Linked DNA regions of Homo sapiens. The protein of the gene in region 2 interacts with the protein of the main gene of each other region in a biochemical or structural test. Each region holds a gene or a part of one and is shown on either strand. Other genes may lie near its edges.

Region 1 (3,124 bases), on a different chromosome or scaffold from region 2:
ATTGCATTCTTTTCTCAAGTCTCACCTTCAGTGGAGAAATGTTCTCAGTGAATCATTGCTGTTCAGGACTTAATGCAGTCTGGTAAAAATTTACTCTCTATAACTCAGTAACCTCCAAATTGGATTTAGAAATACTAGAACTTCTATTTATCATGTAATTGCTTTTTACTTTCTATTTTTGTGTCTTATGATTACACAATATGTGGTTATAGTAGTCCAAGTATGTTATTTATAAACACATGGGGTATGCATGATCAAAAGTTTACTAACAGGGTGTACAATCAGAAAAGGGAGTCTACAGCCCTTACTTTGCTTAACTAAGAAAGGGTGTATTTCCATGAACTAGCCTGCAGGCACCACTACGCTAATAAGCAGCAGGGTTAAAGGAAAGGGCCTAGTCTCCTAAATCTCAAACTAGTGTTCTAAGTTTCTTGAGGGGGGGAAATGCAAGTAGAAATGAAATACATGATGAAAACTAAGTGAAAGGCCAACTTTTGGATGATCCATTAGACACGGAATTAGCTTGAGAAATAGGCACAAACAGAGGACAATGATTCACTGAGAACATTTCTCCACTGAAGGTGAGATTTGAGAAAAGAATGCAATTAGTTCATCAAATGGCAGAGAAGGAGCAACTGCTCCCACAAGAAACCCCATTACCGTATACCTGGTCCCAATACAAACACTCAGAAACACAGTGCAAGCCTGCAGTTCCACCTGGCCTCCAAGGTGCCAGCTTGGCCCACCTGAAGTGAAAAATGGTAAACACTGAGATTTTATGTTTTAATTTGCAGAACAACCTTAGTCAGTATTCCTGTTTTACTGATGAGGAATGCTTCAAACTCTCCAAACACGAAACATCCTCCATGCATACTTTTTCCTTACCTCATTTGTAGGACACTGTTTCATCTATATCACATTACACTATGTAATATCCATTTCAAGATGTGTGTCCCTCCTTTTCCCCACACACATACATACACAAACACCTCTCACCACACATTCTGACTTTCAAACCATTTCACCTCCATGGAGGTGACACCATTTGGGACAAAAAAAAAAAAAAAAAGCAGCAAGATGTTGAAAATAAAAATAAAGCGGACTTTATTTAGAAGATAAAGGTGGTGGTTATCGGTTTTGGTTAATCGAGTTGGGCTCAAGTGTTTTACAGGTCTTAAATGCCATCACAGACTGGCATGCCAAGGGCATTCTGAATGCCAATTACAGATTGAAGTTGTTTCAAAAACCAAGATGCTATCAAAAGCTGATGAGTTTGGATTTTTCTTAAAGTTGGACTAACACACTTCTTAAATATTTGTAAGAGTAAATAGATTGCTTGGTTCTGAAAGTTAAAACACTACACTGAGCAATTCCCCTTCTCCACAAGTCCCTAAGGCAATATTACAGTTGCCTCTGACAGCAAGTCCAACATTTCAACAAAGGGGGGGTGAGGAGAACTGGGAAAAATGAAAAGCAAAATTAATAAATGTAATTGATACAGGCAGCTGCCACTTGTGGCAAACCAAAGCCTAGTCCGATGCCCATTATCTTCACATTTGCACTGACATCTTCCCAAGCAGACGGTAACTACATTCTTGAAGGAATGTGCCAAGACTAGGGTGGGGAAGGCCCAGACAGTGAGTGAACAGAATGCATTTTGCACCCAGTTGCCTTAGGTGGTATAACTGATATAAGGACAAATACCCAGACTATGGAAAACCCACTGGCAAAAGGTTAACTAGAAAAGAGGAGAATTAAATGCATAACCAGTGCAGAGTAACTGCAAGGCACCAAGACCACATCCAACCAGCCCATTTTCCTCCTCTCCACCACTGAATGGATCTGGGAGAAAGCATTAGTAACAGCACTCATCAACTGCTTCCCTGGAACAAAACATGACAAAACACACGGAAGGTTTTTTCATTATGGTTCTCGGTGTACTTTATTCTCCTGCTGTCTAGCTAAGCAGCCCACACAGGACAGAAATGGGTAGCACTGAGGAATGATCAGATTTTTTTTCTATCCCCAATATTTCTGCCCCCTCCCTAAGCCCTGACCCAACCCTATCTTAATAATCACGAATGGTTAGTACATCATTCTGTCTCTCAAAGAACAACTGAAATGGAAACAAGGCATTAGAGGACCAGGCCTCTTCTTAATAGGGCTTAGGAGCTGGTATGAGCTCTTTATTCACAATGGAGCGTCTCTCCTTCAAATACCTGGATTTTTTTTTTTTTGTACACTGGTTCATAGATCGGCACTTGACTTTGAACCTGGCACCAAAAGGCACAATATCTGATACCCTGTACAAGAGCTATTAGAGATGCTGCCATATGGATGGGCAAAACTGAGCCAATCCCACTTAGGAATGGAAGGCTTGGACATGGAAGGGAGGATATAAACGAGGAGTTGGAGAAAAACGCAAGCCCAGTTTTTGCTAGAGTGGAAATGAAAGTGGGAATGAGGGTCTTGTTTTTAGTCCTCTAAGGACCAGGAAGCAATTTTAAAACTTCCTTGGTTTTTCTGAAAGCAGCATATTCAAAATGCCAGCAAAAACTCCTAACAACTGCAAAACCAAAAGAGGATCAAAGCTCACCAACATCCCTTCTTATTGCTGAAAGGCTCTAAAATTCAGGATGCCCTGTTCCCTTGTAAAAGGGAAAATAATTAAGTCTGATTTATGGTAATCATACCACATCACACTTCTAAAAAAATATTCAAGTGTGTGACCAGGGGACGTTTGACACCATTTTATTAACCTTCAACTTCAGTGGAAAAATAAAACCTTTTCCAAGTGCCATTTTCATCACAAGACTTCTAGTTAGTGTGTGTGTGTATTCACACAACACACACTTTTTTTTGTTTTTGTTTTGTTGGTTGCTTTTGAAGTGCAGCAAGAGACCAATACCGCATTGTAGTCAATCAAATAAAAGAACAGAAGGCCAAGCAGTTTCCAAATGGTTATTTTATCAGATTGTTTGAACATTTAATTTATCCTGTTTGCAATCCAAAATAGTTACCTGAAGTTTGCTGTTTTGTGTGTATGTGTTTACTTTTATTGTATATTTATTTTTCTAAACTCTTTGGCACAATTTTCTGGGGGCGTTCAGACTGCCACAATACA
Region 2 (5,694 bases):
AATAAAGTTTGCTTTAGGGACTTGACGTTTGCTTTTTTGGTAAGAACATTTTGCAAGTGGTGCTGTGTGCTTCATATCACGTCACGTTGAGAGGCTATCTCACTTTTGGTGATGCTAAGATTGATCAGTAGGTTCAGATGGTGACAGCGTATCTTTATCTTACTACTTTAACCTAATGGTTTCATTCCTTGATGATCATTGCCTCAATCAGTTATCTTATTAGGAGTTGCAAAATGGTGATTTTCTAATTTCCTCCCTATCACACTGAAATTTCTTCTGTAAAAGGAACTTTTTCTTCATCCTCCAAGACTGCTTGATCACCCTGATGTACAGTTTGTATAGTAAAGGCAAGATAATTTTTTTTCTTTTTAATGGACAATTTTTGTAAAAAGGAGTTGGCGGTCTCATTATTTCTAATGGTATCCAAGGAGTTAGGATTTAAAAAAAATTTGATCTTTACTTTATAAAATTACCATTTTGAATGCATGGGCTTTAATAAATATGTTTCAGTTGTTGCATTTGGCCAGTGGGAGACCTTAACTTCTGTGACACTCCAGTCTAGTTTTTTCCTACCTCATTGTTAGTCCTCCTTATTGCTTTTGTCCACTCATCTTCCTCTCTCTGTCTCTACAGAGATGTTACACATACTGTTGGCCTTTACCTCTACCCCATGGCTTAGCTGACTCCTTCCTTTAGGCCCTAACTGAAGTGCTAATGGAACTGTCTTCTCTTGACCCCTCTCTCAGGCTTGATCAGCTCCCTTATTTAGTACTCCCAGAACCTCTGTACTTCTCTGAAGGACTTATCACAATTGTTAATATTTGTTTGATGTGTTCAGTTTGTTTAATGCACCTTGTCTACCTTGTTTACCACTGTATCTTTAGTATTTGGCTCTGAGCACTTAGTAGGTACTCAGTAAATATTTGTTGTATGAATTAATGGTGAATGAATGAATGAATGTGTTTATAAAAAACCAAGAGAGACTGTGTTGTCAGGAAATTTAAGGGAGAAGGGCTTTCAAGGAGGATGTGTATTCAACAGAAGGTGAAGATTTTCTTTGGGGGCCAAAGGAATAATCAACAGCATGGGAGGCTGACTGCATATGTCTCGGTATAGAGATCACAGTTGATTCATCTCATGTAAAAGTTGAGGAAGATAAAGCCCAGGAATTTCTTGCTCAAGGATAGAAAGCGACCTTATAATAAACCAGGATTCAAGTGTTCTGAGTTCTAGTCCAGTTCTTGCCAATGTTTATATATACTAATTTGGGAATTAATACTTTTCTGGAGAGTAAAAGAGCCTCTCTCTAGCTCTGTAGAAGCTCCATGGACCTTGTGGTACTTTCAATGTTTAGAGCTGAAAGAGAACTTAAACAATATCTAATACAGTGTTTTAAAACTCAGGTCATTTTGGTATTCACGTTTTCTCCTCATCTACATACCATTTGTATTACTATTTAAGAATTTTCTTTAAATCAGTTTACTTTGAAACACGAAATACAGTTATTTTAAAGTAAAATTTATTGCTGCTATAAGTGGAAAATTAGTATCATTTGCTCTAAGGAAAAGGTAATTGAAATTAAGTACAAAGAAAATATAGTGTAAATAAATTCTAGGTAGATAACTTTGCCTTAAGCTCTGAGCCTTAGACTTGCTCCTCGCTTTGTTGAAAGATGACATACTTATCTCACACTTTGGGGCATATTTATCTGCCCTAAGAACTTGGCCCTTCTTTCCATTAGAGAAATTGGTATCCCAGAGAGGTTGATTTGCCCAAAGTTACACAGCCATCTAAAGTTTTAGCCTAGAATACTGATGGTTAATCCATTTGTTATTACTATATATATTTTTTAATAATGAGAGAAAGGAAAATGTTTAGTAAGCTGGTATTTGATATAACAATGATTTTTAGACTTTGTATCCCCCAATTTGTATTTATTATATAAATATAACAGCAATAAAGGTTATTTTAAAAAATCCTACATCTTTACAAACTTTTTTTTATCCACATGCATCCCTTCCTCCCTCCCTCCATTCTTTCATGTGTAGGTTTAATATTGTGGACCCAATCTGTGTTCTGGTAATGGAATTAATTTGGATAACATCATTAGGGCTGGGCACAGTTGCTCATGCCTATAATCCCAGCACTTTGGGAAGCTGAGGCAGGAGAGTCGCTTGAGCTCAGAAGTTTTGAGACCAGCATGGGAAACATAGTAAGACCCTGTCTCTACAAAAAATAATTTTAAAAAATTAACCAGGTGCACATTGGTGCACTCCTGTAGTCCCAGCGACTCAGGATGATGAAGCAGGGGTATTGCTTGAGCCCAGAAGGTTGAGGCTGCAGTGAGCCATGATCTTGCCACTGCACTCCAGTCTAGGCAACAAAGTAAGACCCTGTCTCAAAAAAATATTATTAGAAAAACAAATTTAACGTTATAAGGTTTGGCCTAGTGTGTTAGTTTCCTATTGCTGCCATACCAAATTACCACAAACTTAGTGGCTTAAGACAATAAAATTTTATTATTTTATAGTTTCTGGAGATTAGAAGTCCAGAAGTGGGTTTCACTGTGCTAAAATGAAGGTCCTGGCAGTACTGCGTTACTTCTAGAGGCACTAAGGGAGAATCCATTCTCTTGCATTTTCCAGTTTTTAGAGTCTTCCTGCATTTCTTGGCTCGCGGCTCTTCCATCTTGCCATATGCCAACAGCATAGCATCTTCAGATCTGTTTGACTCTGAGCGCACTCTTCCACTTTTGAGGATCTTATGATTACGTTGAGTCCCTCCTGATAATCCAGGATAACCCTCTATCTCAGCATGCTTAATTTAATCACATCTACAAAGGCCCTTTTGCTATGTAAGATAACATATTTATAGGTTCTGTAGATTAGGATATGGGCATCTTGGAGGGGGCCATTATTTTGCCTACCACGCCTAGGATCTGGATTAAGTTTTGTTTTGTTTTGTTTTTAAATACTAATTTTGGGTACATTTTTAGCATTAGGTGGTCTCTTCAGTCAGCCTACACAAGCTCCTACCCAGTCCAACCAGCTGATAAATACTGCGAGTGCTCTTTCTGCTCCAACGCTGTTGGGAGATGAGAGAGATGCTATTTTGGCAAAATGGAATCAACTGCAGGCCTTTTGGGGAACAGGAAAAGGGTATTTCAACAATAATATTCCGCCAGTGGAATTCACACAAGAAAATCCCTTTTGCCGATTTAAGGTATTATTAATACTATTTTTATCTTCAGTTGAAGATTTTGTATAACAGAAAATATATTTAGATTAATATCAAGATAACAATTGCTTGGATCTTTACTCCTTGAACATGGTATGATTATACTTTTATTTTGAAAATATAGAAATTATAAAATTGAAGTGATTTCATACATATGTGTGGTTGAAGGTGACCAGAATATGAATGAAGGAAGGTGTGACTGGAATGTGATTTATAACTGAAGAAAAAAAATGTAAACAGGAGAATGGTTTGCCTGGCACCTGTAAAGGGGAGACACCAAACTACAATTTAGTGGTATTCATTTAACATTGGCCAGGAGAGTATACCCTAACCAGCAGACAGAAATTCCCCTTGGCATGTATAACCCCAAAGCTATTAAAACAATATTGCCCATTTTCTGTGTTCTTATTCCCTGCCTACCAAACAACCTTCTCATTTGTCTCTTCAGAAAATCTCTTTATCAGCCAGTGAGAGTATTTAGGTCCATTTGGTAATGCATTTTCCATAACAAATTACGTATTGCAATCCAGTTTATACCTCAGCCTCTTAGGAGTTATATTGGCCTACGTTGGTCTCTTAAACCTAATCAATATGTACATAACCCTGTGTTTGGAGCTGTAAGGCTGAGGATCAGATCCTTGAATAAAGTGGTCAGCCTGTCTTATTACAGAACATCTCTTTGTGTCATCACTAACAAAAAGTATATTGAGTGCATATAGTTGAAATTTTGATACATGTATTTAGTCGCTAAGAGGTATTCAATAATAGACATAAGTTGAATATAACAATAAAGTTGGTGTATAACATGGTAAAATGCATAATGTACACTTGAGTTAATTTAAATTCTTTTTTAAAAGTTGCAGGTGAGTGGTGAAAAGGGATAAAAGGCTTCTATCTAAAAGAGCAATTATTTAGAAAAGTATAATTGGTCATATTAATATGTAAAAAAACAACAACCCTGTTTCATAAAGTTTTGTATTATATAAACCAATAAAGTGATACAGACATTCTTTATAGTATTTGTAAGTTGACTGTCATTACTGTGATTTAAAAGTATTTATTTGTAAATTACTTCTTTATATATTTAAAACTTAGTTTAAGATTCCATGAATCAGATATACAGATACTCCTCAACTTATTATGGGTTACATCCCAATAAACCCATCATAATTGAAAATATTGTAATTCAGAAATGCATTTAATACACCTAACCTACCAAGCATCATAGCCTAGCCTAGCCTACTTTAAACATGCTCAGAACACTTACATTAGTGTACAATTGGGCAGAATAATCTAACATCAAGTCCATCTTATAATAATAATAATTTTATAATAAAAACTAAAAGATCAGAATTCCATGTATGGTTTACATGTATGTATATATGAATGCGTATTGCTTTCACACCCTATAAAATGGAAAAATCATAAGTTGAGAATCTGTATAGTGAAATAAATTATAATTAGTTGGTGATTTTTGCAGTCACTTTTATAATGACATGCAGATGGTTCAGAAACAACCAACAATAATGAATATCAAAATTTTTTAGGGGAGAAAGCTGTTTAGTTACTCTCTCAAAGAGGAAATGTTAATCTTACTCTATAGGTTAATGTTATTCCTGGGTAAAATAGTTTTTCTTTATAATTTTGTGACCTCCTAGGGCACAAAATGGTGGGAAGAATCATTATTCCCTTAATTACCAGACATTAAGTTGTTTTTCCCATTTTAGCAGATATTAAGCTATTAATATTAAACACCTGATTTAAGATCTGTACATATTTTTTATATTGTTTATTTTGTCATTCCACAGGCAGTAGGTTATAGTTGCATGCCCAGTAATAAAGATGAAGATGGGCTAGTGGTTTTAGTTTTCAACAAAAAAGAAACAGAGATTCGAAGCCAACAACAACAGTTGGTAGAATCATTGCATAAAGTTTTGGGAGGAAACCAGACCCTTACTGTAAATGTAGAGGGCACTAAAACATTGCCAGATGATCAGTAAGTATACATAAATATACTGTTTATTTCTGTGTATTTATTTCTGGTCCTAAGGGAGTGATCAATAATGTTTTTGTTGCTAAAGCACAAATTAACTCTCAGAGCAGAATGCCTTTTCTCAGCTAGTGATTATTCAGTATTGATAAAAACATTTATTTAAAAGTTTTTTTAAAATTTTGGATTTTTTAACTTACTAGATGCTAATAATTTTCTAGATTTTCATTCAGGCCAGGAAGGGACCATTTGTCATAGATGCGTGCAAATTGAGGGCCATAAAGATGTTATTGGAAAATGTTATTAACTCATTACTGTTCATGTTCATTCATGAATAAATATTATTGCTTTACTTCCCTTGACCTAAGTATAATTCTCAGTGTTAGTGGCAAGACATTTATTTTAGGATATTTGGAGGAATGATTATTAATGAGATGCAATAATTGAACAGATTTTACTTGTGGTTG

The links. Proteins that work in one complex are often made in the same cells at the same time.
Region 1: the proteins of NUP54 (region 2) and KPNB1 form a complex in vitro, tested with the Homo sapiens proteins (one study listed by BioGRID).

What each region holds. Positions count from the first base shown.
Region 1 is NC_000017.11:47,683,462-47,686,585, reverse strand, and holds the end of KPNB1 (importin subunit beta-1), read right to left. Parts: 3' UTR 1,081-3,124; downstream 1-1,080.
Region 2 is NC_000004.12:76,133,714-76,139,407, reverse strand, and holds part of NUP54 (nucleoporin p54), read left to right. Parts: intron 1-2,995; coding exon 2,996-3,222; intron 3,223-5,045; coding exon 5,046-5,233; intron 5,234-5,694. UniProt on the Homo sapiens protein: Component of the nuclear pore complex, a complex required for the trafficking across the nuclear membrane.